Linked DNA regions of Homo sapiens. The protein of the gene in region 1 purifies or fractionates together with the protein of each later gene. This does not show direct contact. Each region holds a gene or a part of one and is shown in the gene's direction. Other genes may lie near its edges.

Region 1 (4,848 bases):
AGGCAGACTGTGTCTGAGGCTCTCCTGAATCTGGGACATGAGCCCCCAGGTCTATGCACTTCATGAAGTGGCCCGTGGAAGCATCACCTGGGGTGGAGAGAAGCCATTCACTCATGTTGTTAACAATAAAATTGTATCTTTATCTGAATTTAGAAGGGAGCGGGACACTGAAGATGAGGATGTGTGGTGACACTGATGAACTGAGTATTCAGGAACCAAGTCCCGTTTAGGTAGAAGCCAGCAGATCTCAGGACTGCTTGGCCTGACGTCCGTTCCGCGGAAGGTCTTCTGGTGACATCGGTGTCTGGGATCATAACCCTTGAGGCATTCATTGCAGAAACCTGTGCTGTCTTCTGAATCGCCACAGACAGATGACATTATGGACAGGCTGGTTTCAGTATTAAGGTTTTTAGTATTTTAACGTTTTGAAAATCGCCAGGATGTGTGTGGCGTGGATGGAACCTACTATCTAGACTCTGCCAGAACATTCTCTTCCATGATTGTCTTAATGGGCTGAACATTTAATCCTTAATTGCTTTTAAGATATTCTGTATCATCAGCCAGAAAATAAAGGGGAAGAAAAAAACCCCATAAACGAATACTGGGTCCTGTACAGCTAATCACCCTATAATCAATATACTCGGTTTAGGGCTGACAGGGTTCTCTTGGCGCTCACTGAGGGCTGCACTGCGCCGCTCTGATTGTTTTTGTTTGTGTGCTGTTTGTCCCCCATTTAGAGTCCTCTGGGTGGATCTTACTGTGACCACATGGTTACATGGGGACGCCGAGGCTCGGAACGCCTCGGGTCACTAAGCTGAGCGCGTGCCCCTGCTGGAGATGGCGCAGAATGACATCACAACATCACAGCCGAGGCTGCACTCAGGCCCCCTCTGGTGCTTCTCCTGCTCAGCCCTTAGCAGCTCACCGACTGGGCCGCAGGGTCCATCTAAAGGCTTGAATGCGCCTCCAGTTGACTCCTCAGCCCTCCAGCTCTCCATGATTCTGCCCACCCACAGTTCCACTCCACGATACCTGCCTTTCTTACACGGTCACCCATATGCTGCTTCTCTTCATTCACCCGTTAAGTCTCTGTGCACCCCTGGTAGCAAGCGTAATGAGACAGGAGGGACTCGACGCCCTCAGAGGCTGCCGTGTGTGAGGAGGGGCGGGTGCGTAGACGAAGAGATCATTGACGGTGGGGGATGGATTCTGTATTAAAGGTTTGCACGGGGCGCCTTGGGATTCTACACTGCAGCTGTGGTTGGCAGCGCAGGACGGGGAGGAGGGAGGCTAGAGCGGCACCGCGTGTACACAGCCACAGAGGCAGAGAGTGGCCGCATCTTATTTGAGGAATGGCAAGTAGATGGTTGGAACTACGGAACACAACATTTGGAGGCGTGAAGCCAGAGATGAGGACGGGAAGGTGGTCAGGCCCAGAGGCTACCAAGGCCCGTGCTGAGCTGCTAAAAACATTCACTAAGGGCTGGATGTGGTTGGATTTGCCTTATAAAGAGATTGCTCTGGAATGGATACAAGCAAAACACGAAATCTGAATAAGGTTGGTAGTTGTCTCATTGTCGATATCCTGGTTGTGATATTGTACTGTAGTTTTACAAGATGTCACCATCGCGGGAGTCAAGGTAAAGGGTGCATGGGATGGCCGTGTGTTGTTTCTTACAACTGAAGTTAATCTACAGTTTTAGAAAGGTACGCCTATCACATGCGTGTGTGTGTGTGGTGTGCGTGTGTGTAACATTCAGTGTGTGTGTAACATTCTGTGTGCATGCGTAACATTGTGTGTGTAACATTCATTGTGTGTGTAACATATTCAGCCAGTCCGGGACGGGGGCTGTGGCTGCTGCTTCACCAGGGCAGGCCTAGGCTTTTCTGCTAGTTAAGACAGGTGACTACTTGTAGACTCTGAAAATAATTTGTATTTCTTAAAATTCACTCAAATCATAATTCACCACCTTTTTCTTTAAATGACCAGCTCATGAGTTACGGAAAAAGGTTACTCTGTCAGCGGATAATATGGTGGATTGAAGGGGCAAGACCCAAGGCAGATGGAACTGTGGGACCCCTGGAATAAAGCAGGGAGGGTGGACCAGGGCTGGCCATGGCTTACCTGTGTGGGGTTGGTGTCTAATAGATGCAACACGTAACGCTGCCTTCAGACTAACACATCAGATGGAGGTGGTGCTGACTGTCTCACCTGGATTCCACGTGGCATCGCCTGGGTGCTCAGCACATGGCCAGGGCTAGTGATGGACCTTCTGGACGCAGGTCACTCCTGCTCGTGTGTCCTGGACGAGAGAGCTGCGCGCCGGCTCCCTACAGCACCCCGGGAACCCCAGAGCACGTGCCACCACATGTCAGCTGGGAGTCTGAGCTGATTATTCCACCACTCTTGAGTCTTGGGGTTCTGGTCTGGAAAGGGGATGGTGGCAGCATTGCCTGCTTAGTGCTGTTAGGAAGACGGGCTGAGCAGTACTGTGAGGAAGATGGGCTGAGCAGTGCTGTGGAGGCTTTGAATAGGGCCCTGCATGTAGGACGCAGCCAGTGACTCTGGATCGTTGTCAGCGTCCCCGTCCTGTCCAAATGGCAGGTCCTTATCGAACCAGCTTGGCCTCCAGCTCCCCAGGCTCCCAGGGAGTGGAGATTATTATAGAAGTGAACACAGAGTCAGGCAGAGGACGCCACTGAGTCGGGGGCTCCATCTTCTATGGAGCTGACTTTGGACTCCGCTGGCAGCAGCTTCTCCGGCACCCAGAGGCTTTGGTGTCCGGCTGACCCGGGCTGGCAACCGGCTCCTCATCGTGCTGCCCAGCCACACGACCTGAGCTTCAGGGTAAAAAATTAAATAAGCAACACGGAGTGCCTGGCGCACAGTCACTGTCCCCTTTGCCTTTGAGAAAACGCCCCCTGAATGCCCATTCCTCTTTTTCAGGAACAAGACTGCCAATGGAGACTGCCGCAGAGACCCCCGGGAGCGGAGCCGCAGCCCCATCGAGCGCGCTGTGGCCCCCACCATGAGCCTGCACGGCAGCCACCTGTACACCTCCCTCCCCAGCCTTGGCCTGGAGCAGCCCCTCGCACTGACCAAGAACAGCCTGGACGCCAGCAGGCCAGCCGGCCTCTCGCCCACACTGACCCCGGGGGAGCGGCAGCAGGTGGGCCTCTGTCTGGGAGGGTGGCGTGGGGAGTCCAGGGGCTGGGGGACTGGGCTGGATGGAGAGCCCCGAGCAGAGGACTCCGAGGGCGGTGGTGAGGGAGGGAGGTGGTGAGGGAGGGAGGTGGTGAGGGATGCCACCCTTCGCCTCTGTTGTGCACTTGGGACAAGGGACAGCAGAACAGGAGTCCTCTTCTGCTTTTACTTCCTGCCCAGACCTGCCCGGGCCTTGCCTCTTAGCACTCACGGCCTTGGGCAAGGTGAATGTCACTGGGGCTTCATCTCTTTCCTCTCCCAGTACAGGGGTGGTGTACTGAGGTGTTTCCTCCAGCAGTCTTCTGTGGCAGGCCTGATTCTCTTAGGATGAATGTAGTCATCCTCGGGTGGGGGGGTCCTACGTTTCTCCTTTAGACGGTCACGCGGATGAAGGGAAATGTCAGGTTGCTTTGCCTTGGGCTGGGGTCCTGCACAGTTGATGGTCACAGGGTTGTGAGCCCATGCTGGTCAGAAGCCTATGATTGGTACATAGGGATTTTTTTCTATGAAAGGAAAATAGGAAATTAAATGATTGCTTAATAAACACAGCTTGCTTGGTAGAAACAAATCTTTTTAAAAATGGGGTTCCTGGGGAAATATATGGGAGAAGGCAGCAGCATTGAGGAGGCTCAAAATTACTGCTTGAGCTCTCCGAATCTCCAGGGACTGCGACCTAATAGGTCCTTAGTCAGTAGTCAGCATTTGCTAAGACTGACAGAGAGGATGGTGCCGTGCCCCGAGGGGGTGCCTCCGGGCTCTGTGCATTCAGCTGCAAGAGCCTCTGTGTCCCTGTGGCCTCACCGGGGCTTCCCTCCAAGTGGCACTGCCTGGTGTCCGTGTCTGATGGGGTCTGTTGAAACTGTGGGTGGGGTAGGCCCTGGGAGTTGGGAGAGGTGGTTCTGGTGCTTGGGAATCCTGGTGAAGCTGAGAACAGTTGCCCATCTTGCCTCAGAGCCTGACATGGTAATCCTGTTTGTTTGATTCATCCATTTAACAAAATGGCACAGACCCCTGCTGTGTGCCAGGGGGTACCAGAAGCCAGTCAAGCAAGATGCAGTTTTTGTTCTCAGCACGCTCAGTTTTAGTCTGGAGGAGAGATCGCTGATGTGTCTGATGGAACCCGAGGCCAAGTTATCACTGCTGTTCATTTCAACGTTTTACGAGCGCTCACCATTTACCCAGCCCTCTGCAGAGCAGAGCTGTGGGCAGCCAGAGACGTGTGTGTGGACACTGTCACGGCCACAGGGAGCTCCCAGTCTAATTGGGGAAATGGACATGAGAAGAGAGGATTGTGCTGTTGGGCAGCAGCAGGGGCTGGAACAGAGGCGTGTGCGCAGTGCGACCCACAGGGACCCGCTCACTGCTCCCCGGGGTGGGCAGTGGACCTTTCTGCTTTGGGAAGCTCAACAGGCATTGTAATGCTGCCATGAGCCATGGCCTGAACCGTGCAGGCAGAACCTGGCTCTCTGGCCATTGCCACTGCTGTTGGGGAGTCCCTGAAGGACACGGGTATGGAGGGGAGGATTCAGCTGTAATCTCGGAGCACCCACATCCAGCCTCTGGCCCTTGATGACCTGGGGGACATAACTGTGAGCCTTACAAGCTATCTCTGCCCACATGGTCAGGGTGGGCCCTTGGCGGGC
Region 2 (4,848 bases), about 140 Mb from region 1:
CAATAAACATATGTGTGCATGTGTCTTTATAGCAGCATGATTTATAGTCGTTTGGGTATATACCCAGTAATGGGATGGCTGGGTCAAATGGTATTTCTAGCTCTAGATCCCTGAGGAATCGCCACACTGATTTCCACAATGGTTGAACTAGTTTACAGTCCCACCAACAGTGTAAAAGTGTTCCTATTTCTCCACATCCTCTCCAGCACCTGTTGTTTCCTGACTTTTTAATGATTGCCATTCTAACTGGTGTGAGATGGTATCTCATAGTGGTTTTGATTTGCATTTCTCTGATGGCCAGTGATGATGAGCATTTTTTCATGTGTTTTTTGGCTGCATAAATGTCTTCTTTTGAGAAGTATTGATGGGACATATCTCAAAATAATAAGAGCTATCTATGACAAACCCACAGCCAATATCATATTGAATGGGCAAAAACTGGAAGCATTCCCTTTGAAAACTGGCACAAGACAGGGATGCCCTCTCTCACCACTCCTATTCAACATAGTGTTGGAAGTTCTGGCCAGGGCAATTAGGCAGGAGAAGGAAATAAAGGGTATTCAATTAGGAAAAGAGGAAGTCAAGTTGTCCCTGTTTGCAGACAACATGATTGTATATCTAGAAAACCCCACTGTCTCAGCCCAAAATCTCCTTAAGCTGATAAGCAACTTCAGCAAAGTCTCAGGATACAAAATCAATGTACAAAAATCACAAGCATTCTTATACACCAACAACAGACAAACAGAGAGCCAAATCATGAGTGAACTCCCATTCACAATTGCTTCAAAGAGAATAAAATACCTAGGAATCCAACTTACAAGGGATGTGAAGGACCTCTTCAAGGAGAACTACAAACCACTGCTCAAGGAAATAAAAGAGGATACAAACAAATGGAAGAACATTCCATGCTCATGGGTAGGAAGAATCAATATCGTGAAAATGGCCATACTGCCCAAGGTAATTTACAGATTCAGTGCCATCCCCATCAAGCTACCAATGACTTTCTTCACAGAATTGGAAAAAACTAAAGTTCATATGGAACCAAAAAAGAGCCCGCATCGCCAAGTCAATCCTAAGCCAAAAGAACAAAGCTGGAGGCATCACACTACCTGACTTCAAACTATACTACAACGCTACAGTAACCAAAACAGCATGGTACTGGTACCAAAACAGAGATATAGATCAATGGAACAGAACAGAGCCCTCAGAAATAACGCCACATACCTACAACTATCTGATCTTTGACAAACCTGAGAAAAACAAGCAATGGGGAAAGGATTCCCTATTTAATAAACGGTGCTGGGAAAACTGGCTAGCCATATGTAGAAAGCTGAAACTGGATCCCTTCCTTACACCTTATACAAAAATCAATTCAAGATGGATTAAAGATTTAAACGTTAGACCTAAAACCATAAAAACCCTAGAAGAAAACCTAGGCATTACCATTCAGGACATAGGCATGGGCAAGGACTTCATGTCCAAAACACCAAAAGCAATGGCAACAAAAGCCAAAATTGACAAATGGGATCTAATTAAACTAAAGAGCTTCTGCACAGCAAAAGAAACTACCATCAGAGTGAACAGGCAACCTACAAAATGGAAGAAAATTTTCGCAACCTACTTATCTGACAAAGGGCTAATATCCAGAATCTACAGTGAACTCAAACAAATTTACAAGAACAAAACAAACAACCCCATAAAATTAACTTTTAAGCTGATACTTAAACACGTTGATAAGTAAATGTTTATGAATTGTTTTTGTCTCCCACTTAAGAATTCTTTATCCACTCAAAAAACACAGGCAGATCTTGTCTGCCAAATTATAATTTTTCATAATTTTATTTTATTTTTTTGAGATGGGGTCTTACTCTGTTGCCCAGGCTAGAGTACAGTGGCATGATCACTGCTCACGATAGCCTCGACCTCGTTGGGCTCAGGTGATCCTCCTATCTCAGCTTCCTGAGTAGCAGGGACTACAGGTGCATGCCACCACACTGCCCAGCTAATTTTTGTATATTTTGTAGAGACAGGGTGTTGCCATGTTGTCCAGGCTGGTCTCAAACTTCTGGGCTCAACTGACCCACCCACCTCGGCCTCCCAAAGTGCTAGGATTATAGGTGTGAGCTTCTGTACCTGGCCTTGTCTGCCAAATTAAATATGCTGGTTATCCACAGTTGTGCAGGTAATGGGAATGTTGAATACTTTTTTTTTTTTTGAGACAGAGTTTCACTCTGTCACCCAGGCTGGAGTGCAGTGATACGATCTCTCAGCTCACTGCAACCTCCACCTCCCAGGATCAAGCAGTTCTCCTGCCTCAGCCTCCCGAGTAGCTGGGACTACAGGTTCATGCCACCATGCCTGGCTAATTTTTGTATTTTTAGTAGAGATGGGGTTTCATCATGTTGGCCAGGCTGGTCTTGAACTCATGACCTCAGGTGATCTGCCCACCTCGGCCTCCCAAAGTGCTGGGATTACAGGCATGAACCACTGTGCCCAGCCTAAATTCTTGATATTACCATGATACTTTATGTATGTCTTAGCTGATTCAGGTAGGATTTAATATGGGATTTTAATTTGGAATTTATTTATACCATTAAAGAAGCATTTAGTATATACTTTCATTCAAAATTTCCAAAAATCCATTAATAATGTCACCATGCATAAGATATTTTTCAATGCATCTTTTCTTTTTTTTTTAAAAAAAAAAAAAAGCTTTGTCAAGTTAAACTGGTGTATCTTTTGACTATTAAAAATTATTGATTATCTTTTTATTTTCAGGGTGACTGTCGTTCCTACAGTTACGTGTGTGGAATCTCCAGTAAAGATGAACCTGACTGGGAATCACTTATTTTTCTGGCTAGGCTTATACCTCGCATGTGTCACAACGTTAACAGGTGTGTTTCACAGGAGCTAGGGTGGGGGCTTGTGTAATGGAAGGATGTATTTCTTAAGGGCTTTCAATTAATGGAAGACCAAAAGGCTCAAATGTAGATATAGGTAGGTCATGTAGATAAGAGTAAATGGCTGTGTTTGTAATTCAAATATGCACATAGGTTGCAGTTAAGTAGATATTTAATATTATCTTGTGTTTTGACTCTTCATCACAATGTAGTCATCTGTTAAAAATTATTTAAAGGAGAAAGATTTTTATTTTAGTGTAAAATATTAAAGGCAGCTGTAAAACATCTTCTAAATTAGTGGTTTATATTAGCTGTTGGTTTTATGGTAACATGTTTTATTCCAGAAGGATTGAAAAAAGTATGTCCAGGTTACAGAATTACAAATAAAGTAACACACACACACACACACACACACACACACACACACACCCCTACAAAACAAACAACCCCCACTCCAAACAAAAATGGAGACTTGGTTAATTTAGTAGTAACCCCAAGGAAAAAAATCAAAGAAAAGAAATAGGCATGTGCCAGATAGCATTAAAATAGTTACATTTAAATATATAATTTACATTTAGATTAATTTCCCTTTAATTTGCATATTAACTTCTTACATTGGATATATCAACAGCTGATTTATAATCTATTTCTAATCCTCAATTTCATCGTACCATATATAGTTCAAAAATTCACTTATTTTGTACTAGATTGCTAATTAAATGTTCTTACTTCACAGTTATTCTCTCTGTTCAGTTTTCTTCATGGGTGTTAGGCAGTTAACAACCAAAAAGAATTACTTGAGGTTTCATTTTACTCAAATTGCTGCAGAAATCAGAAGCTTACCTTTTAATGTTAAGCTAGCAGAGTCTGTATAGTTCGAGATAAGGAGTTACAGGGAAGCCATGTTTTTACCGATGGGAACATGCTCATTCAAAGGCTTACTCAAATGAACTGAAAACCGTCAAATACAGAAGCATCTTTAAAATGCTGAAAAATAGAATTATTACTATCTTCAATAATGGGGGCCAGGCATGGTGGCTCACGCCTGTAATCCCACCACTTTGAGAGGCCAAGGCGAGTGGATCACTTGAGCCCAGGAGTTTGAGACCAGCCTGGGCAACATGGTGAAACTCCATCTCTACAAAAAATACAAAAATTAGCCAGGCATGGTGGTGTGTGCCTGTAGTCCCAGCTACTCGGGAGGCTGAGGCAGAAGAATGGTGTGAACCCGGGAGACAGAGCTTGCAGTGAGCTGAGATTGCACCACTGCACTCAAGCCTGGGCGACAGAGCGAGACTTCATCTCAAAAAAAGGAAAAAGAAAAAAAAAAGAATCTTGGTGAACTTTAGATTTATTTGCTGGGGTCTTTTTGATGAATTGGAGTTTAAAAATATTCTTCCCTGTTTGCCGGTTTTTTTCCTAATTTGGATAAGGGAATCTTTGTACAGGGAGGGACTGTTCCAGTTTTACTGTCATATATAGTGTGGGTAAATACCTGTCCCAGTACACTCTAGTGATTACTTTTGTTTGTAAGAAATGAGAAGGTGAAAAGAGCAGGTTCATGGCATTCTCTTAACTTTCTCCTGTAAAGATCTTTTATGAACTTTAGGAACTGTATTGTTTAGAAAAATTATAACTTACTGTCTATACGTGGGACAAAAACCTTGCTTCTGTTGTAGTATGTTTGGAAGGAGACAATAAAGTAGTTGGTGATACCGGTGGTTTTGTGCTAATATGGTTTTCTATTGTGTATTTTACCTAAGTACATATTAAGAAAAGAAGAAAAAACATTAAACTTTACCATGATAGTTTCCGGGGAGATTTATTTTCTTTGCTAAAAACAGGACTAACGAAAAGTGAATAGGGAGAACTAGCTAAGTGGCACTCATATCTCTACCCTGATTCCCTCTTGTTTTCTGGGTGAAGATTGTGAAACAGATCCCTTCAA

What was found.
Region 2: the proteins of VGLL4 (region 1) and GMPS purify together in Homo sapiens (co-immunoprecipitation; one large-scale study listed by IntAct). This does not show direct contact.

The regions. Positions count from the first base shown.
Region 1 is NC_000003.12:11,563,119-11,567,966, reverse strand, and holds part of VGLL4 (transcription cofactor vestigial-like protein 4), read left to right. Parts: intron 1-2,125; exon of another isoform or gene 2,126-2,947; coding exon 2,948-3,170; exon of another isoform or gene 3,171-3,681; coding exon of another isoform or gene 3,682-3,708; intron 3,709-4,848. UniProt on the Homo sapiens protein: May act as a specific coactivator for the mammalian TEFs.
Region 2 is NC_000003.12:155,928,987-155,933,834, forward strand, and holds part of GMPS (GMP synthase [glutamine-hydrolyzing]), read left to right. Parts: intron 1-2,778; coding exon 2,779-2,894; intron 2,895-4,848. UniProt on the Homo sapiens protein: Catalyzes the conversion of xanthine monophosphate (XMP) to GMP in the presence of glutamine and ATP through an adenyl-XMP intermediate.